2 separate regions of the Homo sapiens genome follow, and region 1 is linked to region 2. A link means that fine-mapping ties the variant in region 2 to the expression of a gene that starts in the linked region. Tissue or cell type: cerebral cortex. Region 2 holds a variant in brackets; the other region holds the start of a gene. All regions are shown on one strand. Distances are from middle to middle.

Evidence for each region. PIP is the estimated chance that this variant, and not a neighbour inherited with it, causes the effect.
Region 1: RADIL starts here. The variant in region 2 is fine-mapped to the expression of RADIL in cerebral cortex (GTEx, PIP 0.96).

What each region holds. Positions count from the first base shown.
Region 1 is chr7:4,879,818-4,887,918 of GRCh38, reverse strand. It overlaps RADIL (Rap associating with DIL domain), which reads left to right and starts at 4,203. Exons shown (of 15, transcript NM_018059.5): 1 at 4,203-4,323. RefSeq lists a silencer at 4,172-4,391 and enhancers at 4,101-4,788, 4,789-5,477, 5,207-5,501.
Region 2 is chr7:4,785,603-4,793,694 of GRCh38, reverse strand. AP5Z1 (adaptor related protein complex 5 subunit zeta 1) reads right to left here. Exons shown (of 17, transcript NM_014855.3): 9 at 8,011-8,092; 10 at 7,267-7,445; 11 at 5,919-6,061; 12 at 5,401-5,541; 13 at 4,744-4,855; 14 at 3,766-3,863; 15 at 3,104-3,236; 16 at 2,808-3,022; 17 at 1-2,580. The coding sequence ends at 2,310. It overlaps MIR4656 (microRNA 4656), which reads left to right and starts at 5,056; the gene lies at 5,056-5,130. RefSeq lists enhancers at 93-767, 872-951 and a silencer at 1,342-1,461. The variant A/G (reference allele first, on the strand shown) is at 4,733.

The sequences.
Region 1 (8,101 bases), 94 kb before region 2:
TGTCTCATGCTCTCTCTCTCTCTCTATATATATATATATATAAATTATATATTTATAAATATATATAAATTAAATCTCTCTATATTATATATATGTATAATATATATATGTATAATAAAATCGAGAATGACTCGGGGGTGATGGTCAAGAGGTGGTCAGAAGACAGGAAGGGAGATGAGTTTCTGCGCTGGGAAGGGGCCCAGCATGAAAACACAGAGGGAAGGCTGTGGGGTCAAGGAGACCAAAGAGGAAAGGTCTCGGAGAAGGGAGATGACCTCAGAGTGCTTGAGGAAAGAAGTTCTGAGGGCTGGAGATCCAAGGCCAAGGAAGAGAGCAGTTGGAGCTGGGTTTTGCAAACCTACTTTATTCTAAGTGCAAAAGGAAAAGTTATGAGAGGGTTATAGGTGGAGGAGTAATAACATCTGGTTTAGGTTTAAGGAACATAGTGTGATTGATGTGGACTTGCTTAATAAAAAGGTAACAAAAATAAAAGACTGTGGGCGCACACAAGAGGACATGTAACCAGGTCTAGGAGACAGGAAGATCTTTCTGGATAAGGGGTATTAGTTATCCATTGCTACGTAACAAACTGCTGCCAAAACTTAGTAGCTGAGGTCAATAATAAACATTTATCAGCTGGATGTGGTGGCTCATGCCTGTAATCCCAGCACTTTGGGAGGCTGAGGTGGGTGGGTCACTTGAGGTCAGGAGTTCGAGACCAGCTTAGCTAACATGGGGAAACCCCATTTCTGCTAAAAATACAAAATTAGGTGGGGGTGGTGGCAGGTGCCTGTATTCCCAGCTACTCGGGAGGCTGAGGCAGGAGAATCACTTGAATCCGGGAGGTGGATGTTGCAGTGAGCTGAAATTGCACCACTGCACTCCAGCCTAGGCAACAGAGCAAGCCTCCATCTAAAAAAAAAAAAATTATCATCTCATAGTCTTTGAGGGTTGGGAATTTGGGAGTAGCTTTGCTGCAGGGAGGAGGGAGCTTTTTTGGCTCAGGGTCCTTCAATGGACTCCAGCTGGGATGTCTGTCACCTAAAGTCTCCTGGGGCTGGAGGACTCACATCCACCATGGCTCACTGACCTCAGAACTACTGATCTAAGAGAGAGCAAGGGCAGAAGCCACGTCTTTTATGATTGTGTTCCAGAAGTCACAGTGTCATTTTGGCAGTATCTTACTGATTACACAAGTCTGCCCTATTCAACATGGGCCTATACAGGAGCATGAAAACCAAGAGGTGGGAATCACTGGGGCCATCTTGGAGGTTGGCTACTACCAAAGAAACGCCTTATCTGAGTCTCAAAGGATGAGTAGAAATTAGCGGCCGGGTGTGGTGGCTCATGCCTATAATCCTAGCACTTTGGGAGGCTGAGGCAGGCAGATTGCAAGGTCAGGAGTTCGAGACCAGCCTGGTCAACATGGTGAAGCCCCATCTCTACTAAAATTACAAAAATTAGTCAGGCGTGGTGGCAGGTGCCTATAATCCCAGCTACTCAGGAGGCTGAAGCAGGAGAATCGCTTGAACCTGGGAGGCAGAGATTGCAGTGAGCCAAGATTGCCTCACCGCACTCCAGCCTGGGCGACAGAGCAAGGTTCCATCTAAAAAAAAAATATATATATATATATATACACACACACATTTGAAAAAAAAGAAGTTAGCCAGGTAATGAAGTTTGCTGTTATGGTCTGAATTTTGTCCCCCTAAAATTCACGTGTTTGTTGAAGCCCCGACCCCTCACACCTCAGAATGTGACTATATTTGGAGACAGGGCCTTTAAAGAGGTGATTAAGATAAAATGAGGCTGTTAGGATGGGCCCTAGTCTAATCTGACTAGTGTCCTTATAAAAAGAGGAGATTGAACACACAAAGAGACAGGTGAGAGGTGCACACCCAGAAGAAAGGCCATGTGGGGGCACAGCCAGAAGGTGGCCGTCTGCAAACCAAGGATAGAGGCCCTCAAAGAAGCCAAACCTGCTGACAACTTCACCTTGGACTTCCAGCCTCCAGAGCTGCCAGATAAAACATTTCCGTTTTTCGAGCCACCTGATCTGGCATTTTTTAATAGCAGCTCAGCTAATCTAATACAGTTGGAAAAGGTGTTTGAAGGTCAAGGGACCGGCCTGAGGGAAGATCTCGAGGCATGAAACAGCATATTCATACCAAAAAGTCAGCATTTCTAGATCAAGAAGCAATCTGAAAAGTTTCTCTATAAAGGGCCAGGTCATATTTTAGATATTTGGGGCTGTAAAATCCTGGTTGCAGGAAAGCAGTCGTAGATAATATCTAAACAAATGAGGGTAGCTGTGTTTGAATAAAACTTTATTTACAAAAACAGAAGGCAGCCCAGATCTGGCCCATGGGTTGTAGTTATCCGACCCCTGTGGAAGAAGGATGTGGGGACTGTGGGAGATGGGCCAGGAGCAGGGTGAGGAATATCTCAGGAGGAAAACCCAGGCCTGAACCCAGGCTCTCCTTCAGCTCTGACCATTGTCTCTTCATGCGCACCTGAATGAAATATTCAAGCACGTCATTCCTTTCAAGCATCCCTTCCTGGGGTAGGCGAGGAGGTTGGTGTGTATACAGAGGGTCCTGTATTCCTGGCTCAGTTCTTGTCTCTACCTCCAGCAGCCTGACCTCTCTGCGTCTCTATTTTCTCATCTGAAAAATGGGAGTATTACTGAACAAAAGGGTTCTGCGCTTGCTCTGCTAGAAGCCAATCTTGATCAGGTGCAGAGGTTCATGCCTGTAATTCCAGCACTTTGGGAGACTGAGGTGGGTGGATCACCTGATGTTAGGATTTCAAAACCAGCCTGGTCAACATGGCAAAACCCCGTCTCTACTAAAAATACAAAAATTAGGTGGGCGTGGTGGTAGGTGCCTGTTAACCTTAGCTACTCGGGAGGCTGAGGCAGGAGAATCGCTTGAACCTGGGAGGTGGTGGTTGCAGTGAGCTGAGATCACACCACTGCACTCCAGCTAGGGCAATAGAATAAGACTCTGTCTCCAAAAAAAAAAAAAAAAAAAAAAAAAAAAAAAGCCAATCTTACTGCATTAAGTTTTTGAGACAAAAGCTTTTTTTGTCCGTATTGTGAGTTGATCAATAAGGAGACAGGAGCCTGGCTCAAATCTGTCTCTCTGTGTTGACTTTGAGGCACTATTTTTTATTAGAAAAGGTTTAGGAGGTGGACTTTAGGATTAGCAGGTGATAGGTGGAGGAAAGGGGAGGCCTGGAATGTCTCAGACATCTCTGTCTCACAAGAATTGATGTGAGCATTAAGTGAGGTGACCTAGGTAAAGTTGCCTAGGGCCTGGCACACAGGTGGTCAATAAATGTCTGTTCCCACACTCATCAATGTCTGCTCCGACCTCCATCGCGAATATGGGGTCATGACTACGGAAATCATACCACGATAGCTGTCCACAAAAAGGTTCACTCCCGAGGCCCACATTCTGCATATTGATATTCCGAACCACCTGAATCTCCCAGGTCTAGCCCACATTCCTCAAAGGGAAAACCCCAGCCAAAGTGCCGAGGTCACGAGCTGCTTTTTAAACAAGTCCCCAGGGAGAGCAGTTGGGGCCAGAGCCCCAGAGCTGACCTGGTCATTTTTTTGCATAATTGTAAGCAGGAATGCCATGACCTGATTTGTCTTTTAAAACTCTGGGTGGGAGACAGATGGTAGGGGAGAGGAAATTCCTCCCTTGTTCCTTTTCGATGTCTTAGAAGATGTTTATTAATTGGGGGCACAGCTCTACCCTCCCCTACACCCACTCACTGGGCTACTAGAAGGTGCTGTCTCGAAATAGCCCACCCAACCGCAGGAGCCCAGAGCCCACAAGCAGCTCAGGGACTTAGAACTGGTCCCACCCTTCCTCCGGGGACCCCCCCTCCTTAAGCTGCAGTCTGTGGGTGGGCTGCAAGTCCCGCCTCTCCACAACCAGCCCCACCCCTTTCTTCAAAACCCCGCCTCTCCGGTGAGGCCCCGCCCCCTCGAGGCTGCATCCCCGTCCATTGGGCGGCCGGCAGGAGGCGCCAGAGCACAGCCCGCCTTTTCTAGCAGGTTGGCCCCGCCCCTCTCCTGGAGACCCCGCCTCCTCGAGGCTTTCTTTCTGCCTATTGGGCGCCGAGGCCCAGCTCCAGCCCACCTGTTCTCCCCCGCCCCACCCTTTGTGGCCCCGTCCCCTTGAGGCCCCGCCCCGCCCGTTGCGCCGCCGGCAGGAGGCGCCGCGGCACGCGCGGGTCTGGGCGCCGGCCCCAGCCAACGGCGGGTGGGAGCAGCGCGGGAACGTGGCGGCGCGGCGGGTTGTGCCGGAGGTGAGTGTGGGGTGCGCGAGGAGTGACTGCGGAACCGGGGGTGGCTCGTAAGGGGCGCTGCTCGGCCGCTGCCGGGGACCTGGGGCGCGGAGGCCGCGGGGCGCGCTCGGGGACACTCCCGGCCGCTGGTCGGGGCGCGGAGGGCAGGTTTGCCCAGTTGCCATGGGAACCGACTGGCTGTCGGGCCCCGGCCTGGACCGGGGGGCGGTACCCGGAGGCCGGCTAGCGCGGGCAAGGGCGGCCCAGCCTGCGGGGATCCGGGGGTCCGCGCTGCCGACCCCCGAGAGCTCCTGAGCCTGGCTGTCCGCGTGGGCCCCGGACCCCCAACTCCAGGGGACTCTCGGCCCTCAGTTTTCCCGGCTGTGCCCTGGAGGGGGAGCTTCGTCCGGGGCGCGCAGCGGGGGAGCGGGGCGCAGCGGGGGAGCGGGGCGCAGGGTTCCGCGCGCTCTCCCACCTGGGCCGGCGAGACGTCCCCTGCACATACCCCGTCCCGGTTGCAGCCCGATCCCCACTCGTGCGCCAGCTCAAAGCATTGTTTCCCGGCTATTTATGTACCATTTCCAGCCCCTCGACAAATACTGCATCCAAGATAACAGATGCTGAGCCGAGCTCCTGGGGCCTCGCAGGAGGAGCCTGTTGGTGGGGTTGGCAGGGCCCTGGCGGGGCTGCGGACCATCCTGCCCTGCCCTGTCGCCTGTCAAGTGTTTGGCTAATCTGAATTGCACAGAAGAATCTGATTGCTCGTGTCCCGCGGTTAATATAGGCCACCTCTTGTGCATTCCAGACAGGAACCAGTCTTGAAAGTCCCTTTTGCTGGGGGGCAAGTCGGTCTCCTCTCCAGCAGCTAGCAGGTCAGAATTAAATCTGATTGAATTATGTTTGCATTTGAAAGCGTGGCTCGGGCTGGGGCTGTAAAGATAGGATTCATGGAAGGAGGGGAGAGAGCTGAGTGTGTAAAGTCTGCGCTTCGTTTTCCCTCCTGCTGGAAATGATAATGGGTTCCACATTGTCCTGTTGGAGCAGAGAGGTCGCTCCACCCATGTCGTCAGCGCAGCACTGACCTCACTCCCTGTACTCGCCGCTGGGACTTGAGCTTGTTTTTCATCAGAAACTGGACCCTTCCTTGAGAACAAGAGAAAACATTCTCTAAGAGCAGCACCAGCCAGCGCCCCACACCCTCGCTGTCCGAGCCCTGCGCTTTCCCCAAGTATTTGTGTCACAGAGGAGCGAATGGGGCAGAAGAGGCCGGTCGCACTTCCAGAAAAACAGATCTTGTTACCCAGGGCGTGCTCCGCCCGGTCGGATTTTCCTGCACTCCCCTTGGCCTTTTAAAAAACGAGTCCATCCCATTCTCACAAACAGGCCAGGCTCCGCCTTCTGGGATTCGGAAGCGGGCAGCGTGTGAACAAGTGGGCACCCTCTGGTCTGGCCAAGGGAGGATGACCAAACGGAGAGAAATGCTTTCTGAAAATCCCAAAACAGATAAGGTTTGTGTAACAGGGACTTCTGGGGGCTTAAGAAGGAGTTATTGGAAAGGAGTCAATCATATTCTCTCTGCTTACATTTTCTCCTGTTTCATGATACTGCTAACTCTGCCTCTGCCTTCGAATCCGGCTCCGGAAACTGTGGGAAAAGCAGGGGTGGGGGGAAGTGGGGGGAACAACATTTCTGAAGTTCAAGCTTCTAAGACCCTGGGAGGAGACCTAGCAGTTGTGTGTTTGTAATTTTCTATTTGTTTTTTATTAAAGAAGAATTATGTAAATGTCAGACCTTACAAAACATATATCCACCCCTGGGCCCCAAATATCAACTCACTTTTCCATTGTATTTGGGGGCCTTTTTATAATTTTTGTCTTTTTTTTTTTTTTTGAGACGGAGTCTCACTCTGTTGCCCAGGCTGGAGTGCAGTGGCGTGATCTCGGCTTGCTGCAACCTCTGCCTCTGGGGTTCAAGCGATTCTCCTGCCTCAGCCTGCCAAGTAGCTGGGGTTACAGGCACCCGCCACCATGCCCAGCTAATTTTTGTATTTTTAGTGGAGACAGGGTTTCACCATGTTGGCCAGGCTGGTCTTGAACTCCTGACCTCAAGTGATCTGCCCGCCTCGGCCTCCCAAAGAGCTGGGATTACAGGCATGAACCACCATGCCCAGCCAATTTTTGTCTTTTTTTTTTTTTTTTTTTTGAGAGGGAGTCTCACTCTGTCGCCCAGGCTGGAGTGCAGTGGCATGATCTTGGCTCACTGCAAGCTCCGCCTCCCGGGTTCACGCCATTCTCCTGCCTCAGCCTCCCGAGTAGCTGGGACTACAGGTGCCCACCACCACGCCTGGCTAATTTTTTGTATTTTTAGTAGAAAAAGGGTTTCATAGTGTTAGCCAGGATGGTCTCGATCTGCTGACCTCGTGATCTGCCCGCCTCAGCCTCCCAAAGTGCTGGGATTACAAGCGTGAGCCACCGTGCCCAGCCATCTTTTTTTTTTTTTTTTTTTTTTTTTTTTTAACAGAGAGGGTCTCACTCCATTGCCCAGGCTGGAGTGACGTGGCGCAATCATAGCTCACTGTAGCCTGGAACTCCTGGGCTCCGGTGATCCTCCTGCCTCAGCCTCCCGAGTAGCTGGGACTACAGGTGCACACCATGCCCAGCTAATTTTTTATTTTTATTTTCTGTAGAGATTGGGATCTTGTTATGTTGCCCAGGCTAGTCTTGAACTCCTGGCCTTAAGCCATTCTCCTGCCTTGGCCTTTTAAATACTTGGCTCTGCTTCATGACTTTTCTGTGATATGGGCTTTCTCCTGCCTGGAGGGGGCTTCCCCAGTTTTTGGTATCGTATTTATATCAGCATTCAGACTTCATCTCCGGAGGCAGAGGTTTCCTGAGCCACAGCTGCCTGGTGGCAGAGGCTGTACCATCCACCACCTGCACTTTGCCTTTGCACCCTGGGGAACCCGTTGGAAATGAGCACTATGAAAAGGTGGTGGCCGACCCTCTGCCAGTGTGTGCTGCCTGGAGGCTTCTAAGCCTGGGGCATCTGGAGAGGTGCTTTGGAGCAGGGTTGTGCAGCTCTCATGGATGGTTAATAAGTGCCGGCTGGAGAGGCTCTTTGAGGGGTTTTGTTCTGTGATTCCAAGTACTCACTTTGAAAACTGACCACAGGAGACTGAGGTCAGACTAGAGGGCGATTGGAAGCCGCTGGTGTGGTGTGCACAGGCCAGGCCGCACGTTTGTGATGTGAGCACTGTCTGAAAATGCTTTTGTTGTAAATGAAACCGAGGCCTTTGATGAGTCCGTGGGGGAAGCTGCGGCCGGCTCTGAGCTTCTTAGGATTTGACAAGGCCACTCGTTGCACCTTCCTCAGAGGAAGAGAAACAAAGGCTTTGCTCCTTTACTCCTTTATGGCCTGGCTCGATGGAACCTCAAGGCTCCATCTGCTTATGACCTGTACTGGGAACTCCGTGACCTGTTACAGCAAATTCACCTCTTCAGAAAGCCAGGCACAGCGAAAGCCTTTGCCGTGGTGAAGTGTCCGCAGTGGGCTATAGGAACAGGAGAAGGGCCAGCCACCCACCCCGCAGGGCAGACGTCCGCGTTGGGAACCCAGTCTCTGGTGTGCGAAGCTGTCGGAAGTATTTCTGAAGAGTTCAAGGTCCTCGGAGAAAGCACAGCTGCTGGCTGACCTGGGCTGGTTCTGGAGGAAGCGAGTGGTGGTCTGATTTCAGGACTCACCCATGACAGCTCTGGCGGGCAGTGAGAGGCTCCAGAGAAGATGACCCACGCCCCGGTGA
Region 2 (8,092 bases):
AATCGAGCACAGCAGCTGCTGGTCCAGGTGCTAAGCCCCTCACTGCCCAGGCTGGCGGGGCTAGCCGGCGGCTCCGAGTGCGGGGCCCACAGAGCCCACGCCCACCCGGAACTCGCGCTGGCCCGCAAGCACCGCGTGCAGCCCTGGTTCCCACCGCGCCTCTCCCTCCACACCTCCCCGCAAGCTGAGGGAGCCGGCTCCGGCCTTGGCCAGCCCTGAAAGGGGCTCCCACAGTGCAGTGGCGGGCTGAAGGGCTCCTCAAGTGCTGCCAAAGTGGGAGCCCAGGCAGAGGAGGCGCCAAGAGCGAGCGAGGGCTGTGAGGACTGCCAGCAGGCTGTCACTTCTCACTTTCACTTAGCATATAATGTTTCTAAGGTTTATCATCTTTTCTGTAAATCTGAAAAACTATTCTAAAATTTCAGTTTATTTAAAAAAAAAGTTGAGAGCTGGTGAGCTTTGCCCTTTTCCCAGCTGCCTCCTGGAGGCCACCTGAAGGTTGCTCCTCCCTGGGCTGGGGTCATGCCCTCCGAGGCCCTGTGGCCATGAGCTCCTCCTTGTCCCTTGGATGAGCGGGACGGCCCTTCAAGTCACACTCCCAGTCCTAAGCCGGGCGCTGCTGCACAGGCTGCGGACTTAGCACCAGCTGGCCTGGGCGGTGGCCCCACGAGTGCCTGGGAGCTGGGAGCCAGGACACCCCCGACGCCTTCAGGTCAGGGAAGCCCCGCCCCAGGGCAGGAGGGGAGCTGCGGACTCAGTGGGAGACTCATTCCGAGCCTAGGGGCAGCCCCACGCTCTCTGAGCTTCGGGATGAGCCCAGCAGCGCCCCCACACCCACTGCTGCAGGCGGGGTCGTGCACCGCACTGGGAAGTGATCCCGAGACCCGCGCACTGGCACGCACGCCTTGGTATGCACAGTTGTACACGTGCGCTGCTGTTTCCACGTGGAAACACAAACACAGTGCTGCCGACGGAAGCGCCTGCCAGCGCCAGCCTTTCCTGCGGCCCCGGCTCAGCGGCCCTGGGCTGTCATCGCAGGCCGCGGGGGACACCAGCCGTCCTGGAGCTCGGAACGCGACCCAAGGCCCAGGCTGTGGGGCAGGCGAGCGCTTCCTGGGCTGGAACCTGGCGGTGAGGACCCCGCGGTTCGGCTCGGGCATCTGGGGAGCTCCTGAGCCCGCACGGTGTCCCCTGCTCCGTTCCTTGCGCGTCACTCGCCCCCTCCATAGTCCTGAGGCTGGGCAAGGGGCAGGACCCTGCAGTCGCCTTCAGCCTGTGGTTTCTTAGTCGCAGAGCTATGGGGGATTGGGGGCGGGGCCGAGGCCGGAGGGGAGGTGGGCGGGGCCAGAGCAAAAGAGGAGACCGGGGGCGGAGCCAGAGTGGGGAGGGGGAAGAGTTTGAGCCTGGGGGCGGGGCGTGAGGCTCTCGGGGCGGCGGCGCCCCCTGGCGGCTGAGCCCGTCCCAGGCACCGGGCGGAACGTGCGACACAGCTGTGCCTTGGTAGTCCGGAGGGTGGGACCACAGGGCCCAGGAAGGTGGCGGGGCTGGGGCCGCACGCCCAGACACCTCCCCTTCGCGCGAATCCAGTGTTCTGAGCTCCACTCAGGTGGCTCCCTGGGGCCTTCCCTCCGAATGGCCAGAGGCCGCAGCCTGCATAGGCCATGGCGCTTGCAACCCTCCCCCGGTCCCCTTCATCTTCAGGCTATTCAAGGGCATCAAAAGGGGCATTGACAAGCGCACCACCCAGAGCGGTGACCACACCCGGGAACTCGCGCCGCTGCCTTCCGGGCTGTGCACAAATGACCTGGTTTCTGTAGCAGCAGTGGCACGCCGGGCTGAGCCTCCAGGACTGGCAGCAGCTGCCAGGGGTTCCCATCCCTGGTCCTCTCCCCAGGGTGCAGGGCAGGTAACGGAACTGATCGCGCACTCTTCATACAGACGCTTATTAAAGGAGATTTACTTTTACTGCAGCTCTTCTTGCCCATCAACTGTCCAAAAACAAAAGACTAGGAAACAGACCCAGCAGCCTCCACCCGACCCAGCCACAGGGCCTCAAGCCTCCAATCAGAGCCGCTCCATGGCACCCCTCAGCTCAGCTCAGTGTTGCCTGGGAGCAAAAGGCTCGGAGACAAAGCCCAGAGGGTGAGCAGGGGGGCCAGCCCCGCGTGTCTGTGAGGGTGCCAAGCCCACCGTGGGCCTTGCCTCCTCTCCCAGGACTCCCGCGCCCTCCTGAGCTCCTATCAGCCTGGCCTCAGTAGCAAGCTGGCTGCCCAGGCTCTTAATCTGCACCGAAGTCCCTGGCCACTGTCCCTTCACCCTGGCATGAGGCCGGCCTCCCTCTCCACCAGCCGGCTGACCGTGCGCAGGGCCAGGGGCAGGGCCGTGTTGGCATCGCGGTGATAGCGGGGGCTGCACACCTCCGTGCTGGGTGTGAGCACAAACTGGGCCACGCTAGGCATCTTCAGCAGGGTCAGCAGCTCTGTGGCCCGGGTACGGATGGCTTCCGCGCCCTCCTCGCTGTGCGTGGAGCTGGTGGCTGGACTGTGAGCCAGGGTCCTCATCTTTGACAGCAATAAAGAGGCCCTGGGGAAAGAAGGTCCCTCCGTCAGCTGCAGATGCTCCCCTCCCAGGACAGGGGTCTGTGTGGAGGGGCCAGGCCTGAAGCGCCCAGCAGAGTGGCTTTAGCTCAGCAGGGCCCACCCAGGACCTGCGCTGCTGCGACCATTTCACAACACCTGGATGGGAAGACCTCAGAAGCCACCTCTCTTCCCCAGGAGCCAGAAGGCTTCGCTCCCTCCCTGACCAGGCACCTGGGGATCAGATCTTGGCTCCGGGAGGCCAGCTTCGTCAGCGTGGTCATCAGCACGGTGACCACCTGGGGGGGACACCTGGGCAGGGCAGCAGAGGGGCGGCACTGGGTGACCTCGAATAGCAGAGCCTCCAGGGCTTCGAAGAACTTGTTGATCTGCTCCACGGTGCACCTCCGATCGTAGGTCACCGACAGGTACTCGCCGATGGCCCACACCTAGGCCCGGGGACAGAGATTCAGCCCCCACCCAGGCCTCCTGGGTCAGGAGCGGCTGTGGGAGGCCAGCGCCCGCCTTACCACGCTGGTGACGAGGCTCGCCCTGCTGCAGAGACCATTCACGCTGCCCAGGAACTCCAGCAGGTCTCTTGCCAGCTCCACCACCAGGGAGGGTTTCAGCGTACACAGGGCCAGGAACTGAGAACTCAGCACACTGCCCAGAAAGCCGGGTCTACGCCTGCTCTGTGCAGACCTATGACCCCATCCCCATCCAGGCCAAGGGCCTGGAGAAACCCGGGAAGCGTCTGAGTGGTAGGTGTATGCTGCACCCTCCGATAGAGGAACACAGAAGACTGCCAGCCTCAGAGAAACTGTTCTCACTGGGGAGAAGGCTGGCACCAGCGCTGGCCTCAGGCCCAGGCTCAGAGTGGAACCAGGATGGGCCTGCATGCATCAGGCCTTTGGAGAGAAGGACCCCAGGGGACAAGACGGGGAAGAGGGACCTGAGCTAACCCTGAAGAGGACAGGCTCGGCAGAAAGAAGGACGGGAATGTTCTTGAGAAGCAGAGAGAAGTGCCTGGGGCTGGGTGTGGGGCTGTGGGTGGGGGTGGCAGGGTCTGAGGCTGCTGAGGGCCCAGCTAGGGGTGGTGCCGAAGCCACTGAAGGGGAGGGGGGAGGGGAGAGGGGGAGGAGTCCAGGAGGCACCCGCCCAGGGCTGTGGCAGGAGCGCAGGAGGGACCTACCTGTGCACACCGGCAGCGTACCCTGGGGCCGGGTAGAGCGAGTCGCTCCTGCCCAGGAGCAGCAGCGCCAGCTGGTTGATCAGGGACCCGTCAGCCACCTGGGGGTCAGGAGTGGGAAACAGGCTCAGCCCCACCCCCACTGCAGGCCCTAAGGTTGGGGGTGAAGCCATGGTGAGGGCTGGGGGGCAGGTGAGGGGCTGGAGACTCCTCGTCCACTGCCTTCCCCAACACCCAGGGACACAGAGACTCAGCTGGCAGCATCCGGGCACAGGGAGGGAAGCCCTGGGCTGGCCCAAGTGCCCCCGGCAGAGGTGTCGCTTCTGTTCCACGGCTCCTCTGCCAACTCCCGCTCTGCAAGGCCAGGCACACGTCTTGTTTGGCCAAGGGTGCGCCCAAGCAACGCCCAGCCCCCTGCCGGCCTCCCCACCTCCCAGGCTCTCCTGCACTGGCTTGTAGAGCTCCCCGAGGTGGGAAGCAGCAATGGGGGAGATGGGGGGCACCAGCCTGTGGGAGCCTTTATTTTGGCCTCAGATGGGGATGCTGAATTATCAGGGGCAGCAGGGGGACAAACTGCTCCGGCCCCAGCTGTGTGGCCAGAGCCCAGGCCACTCACTTGCCCTGTCCTGGGGACGGAAGACAGGGCCTGCTGGGGCAGTTGGATGGAGCCTGCTGGGATGGGAGACAGGACCTGCCGGGATGAAGGGGATGGGACGGGGATTGGGGGACGTGGCCTGCCGGGATGAAGGGGATGGGACGGGGACTGGGGAACGGGGCCTGCTGGAATAAAGGGGATGGGACAAGGGACGGGGCCTGCCGGGGCTGTGGCATGTGCCTCCCTGACCCTCACAGGGACCGTGGATGGTGGGTGTGGCGGGAGCAGCCTTCTGCAGAGCTCAAGAGGGCCCCCCAGTGCTGGCTCTGGCCTGCCCCTCAGTTGTGAGGCCTGTGGGAATGGGGGGCCCCAGGC[A/G]GCGAGCTCACCTGGGTCACTGCTGAGAAGAATGCCTGCAGCAGCGTGGGCACGGCCTGGGCACACTGGGCCACGCGGGCACAGCCGGCCATGGGCTGCAGCAGCTGGTGGAGTGGCGCCAACCTGAGGACACAGTGTGGCCGTGAGTGCTGCCCGCTCCCCGACCTGGTGACTGCAGGCCGGGGCCACGTCGCCACTGCTCCCTCTCGCACAGCTGAGCCCGCTCCCATCCTCACTCATCGCCTCTCGGGACCTCCTGCTCCCCTGGGTTTGGGGAGACCCCTGGCGTCAGCACACCCGGGACAGTAAAGCCATCGGGACAAAGGCTGGCGTGGGCTGAGGGCAGGAGGCCTGTGGCCGGTCCCAGGCCTCCTGCTTCCTGGGCTCAGGCTCGGTTTGTCCATCTGCAAAATGGAGCACCCACAGGGCCAACCTCCAAGCTTATGAGGGTTGATGTGGGCAGCAGAGAGAGCTGAGACCAGGCCCCGCCCCCGGCAGACCCGTGGTGCAGAAGCAGGGCCTCTATAATGGTGATGACGGGGACGCAGCCTTGTGTGGGACACAAAGCACCCTGGCCTCAGCCTAGGGCTGAGCAGTGAGCCCCACCCCAGTGGCTGTGGCCGGGCTCTCTGAGCCACTGGTGGCCCCCTGGCCCTAGGGCCCCGTACCTCTCAGTGGCGCCACTGGCCTTGGGGCGCAGCAGGTATTGGAAAAGACCCTGGAACTGCGGGTCCCGGAAGGCCTCCAGGCAGCTGGGGGCCCTGAGAGAGGTGTCCCAGAGTGGCCTCTCGGATGCAGCCGGTGCTGACCTGCGTGGACAGACGCCCAAGGCCAGGCTGGGATGCGGCCCCTGCACTCAAGGGCACCCCCGTCAGGGAGACACACGGCAGGTGTCCCTAATATCACAGCACCTCGGGTGCCAGGAAGGGCTTGGCATGGGAGGCTCCAGGCCTGGGCGTGAAGACGGGTGAGGCACTCCAGGGTGCAGGGGCTGCCCTTGGCAAGTGGCCAAGGGTGACAGACACACCCTGTCCTAGAGGTGGCTTTGCAGGGGAGGACTGGTCAGGTGTTGGGGGGGGAAGAAGGAGGGTCCCCGGTGTAGGGGTCAGGAGCAGCGAGGAGGGGGCCCAGTGTGTGGAACCAGCTGGCTGGGAGACGCAGCGCTGGCAGAGGGTGAGGGGCCCACCTGAGCTGCAGGTCCAGCACCGCCGTCAAGCAGGGCAGGTCCAGCAGCGCGTGCAGCATCTCCAGGGCTGTGCCAGCGTCCACCAGGGCCGGGAGGAGCGCCACAAACTCGGAGGTGAGGGGTGGGCTGTTCCAGGCCAGGAACTGTGGGCACAGCACAGCGGTTCGGACACGGCTCGGAGCTGTGGAGCAGGCGGCAGAGGGAGGAGCCAGCTAGGGCCCCACAGCTGTCCCAGACCTGCAGTCCCCAGGAGGGCTTCTACCTTTGCCTCCTCCCGCTTTTTATTTTTTTGAGACAGGGTCTTGCTCTGTCGCCCAGGCTGGAGTGCAGTGGTGCAATCATAGCTCACTGCAACCTCAACCTCCCAGGCTCAAGTGATCCTCCCACCTCAGCCTCCTGAGCAGCTGAGACTACAGGCACACACCACCATGTGAGGCTGTTTACTTTTTGTAGACAAGAGGTCTCCCTGTGTTGCCCAGGCTGGTCTTGAACTCCTGGCCTCAAGATCCTCCTGCCTTGGCCTCCCGAGGTGCTGGGATTACAGGTGTGAGCCACTGCCCCCAGCCTGTATCTACTTTCGTACCAACAGGTCAATAATTTTCCACTGTCCTGGTTTTTCTCCAGAAAGAGGATTCCCCACCTCAGTTGAAAAGACCTTACAGCGAGGCGAGGCTGCAAAAGACACTTCAAAAGCAAATGGCACCAGGCCGGGTGCGGTGGCTCATGCCTGTAATCCCAGCACTTTGGGAGGTCAAGGCAGGAGGATCATCTGAGGTCAGGAGTTCGAGACCAGCCTGGCCAACATGTCGAAACCCCATCTCTACTAAAAATACCAAAAATTAGCTGGACATGGTGGTGGGTGCCTGTAATCTCAACTACTCAGGTGGCTGACGCAGGAGAATCGCTTGAACCCAGGAGGCGGGGGTTGCAGTGAGCTGAGATTGCGCCACTGCACTCCAGCCTAGGTGACAGGAATGAGACTCCATCTCAAAAGAAAAAAAAAAGGCAAATGGCACCCAAGTGCCCAAGGCACCAGGCAGGGCTCCCGGGGGAGGGATCCTACCAGGCAGCAGCCCTGCCCCAGTGCTGTGAGAACAAACTCACCGTCTTGTGTCACAGCCCCCTCTCCAAAACACCCACAAGGGAGTTCTTGGACAGCACCGTCAATCACGTGACGCTGCAGGGACACCCCAGATCCCCACCTCACCCTGCACACCGCATTCCAGGCCCGGGACTCACAGGGCTCTATGCTCAGCCAGGACTCGCCCTGAACCCCGCTGGAAAGAGGGGAGGAGCCCCAGGGACTTACCATGCCCCTGCCCTGGCACCCAGGGATGCCCAAATATACCTTAAAGAGGTTGGGGAAGCTCAATCTGAGGGTGCTGAGGTGCCCGCTGAACAGGTGGAGGTTGTCCCTGCAGAACTGGATGAATTCAAAGGCCAGCATGGGGCTGTGGAACTGCTCCACCGGGATCCTGGTGAACAGGTGCTGGTAGACGGCTTCCGAGTCCACTGCAGCCGCTTCCCCTGCAAGACCAGGGCCCGCCAGGGCACACGTCTTGACCTCGCCCTGGCCGTGCTTCTGTGACTGGTTAGGGGCCCTGAGTCTCAGGCCTGCTCTCCAGGACACCAAGGGCTCCGAGGCGTCCTACGCTGGGACGCTGGGGAAGCGGCACTTGGTCTCCCTCGCCCAGGGACACGGACAGCTCGTGAGTCACACACACTATGGCACATTCTTTGGAAGGTGCTGGTTCCTAGACTTTCAGGTTTCCTGGGCTAGGGACACAGCAAAAAGAGTCTGTTTATTTCTCTATTTAAAAGTTTAAAAATTACCAACATCTGGCACAGCAATCCATCAAAAAGAAATATGAGCTGGGCACGGTGGCTCATGCCCGTAATCCCAGCACTTTGGGAGGCCAAGGCAGGAGGATCGCTTGAGGCCACGAGTTCCAGACCAGCCTGGGCAACACAGCAAGACCCCTGTCTCTATTCAATCAAAAAAAAAAAAAAAAAAAAGGGAAGAAGAAATTCCATCCTAAAACTAAAGGCAGAAGCAGAGCCCCGAGTCAGCGCCACCCCACCCTGGGCTCACCGTGGCTCAGGAAGAAGTGGGCGAGGGGCAGCAGCACCCGCACAGAGGCCGGGTCCCCGCGCACCCGCCCGTGCAGGGCCTT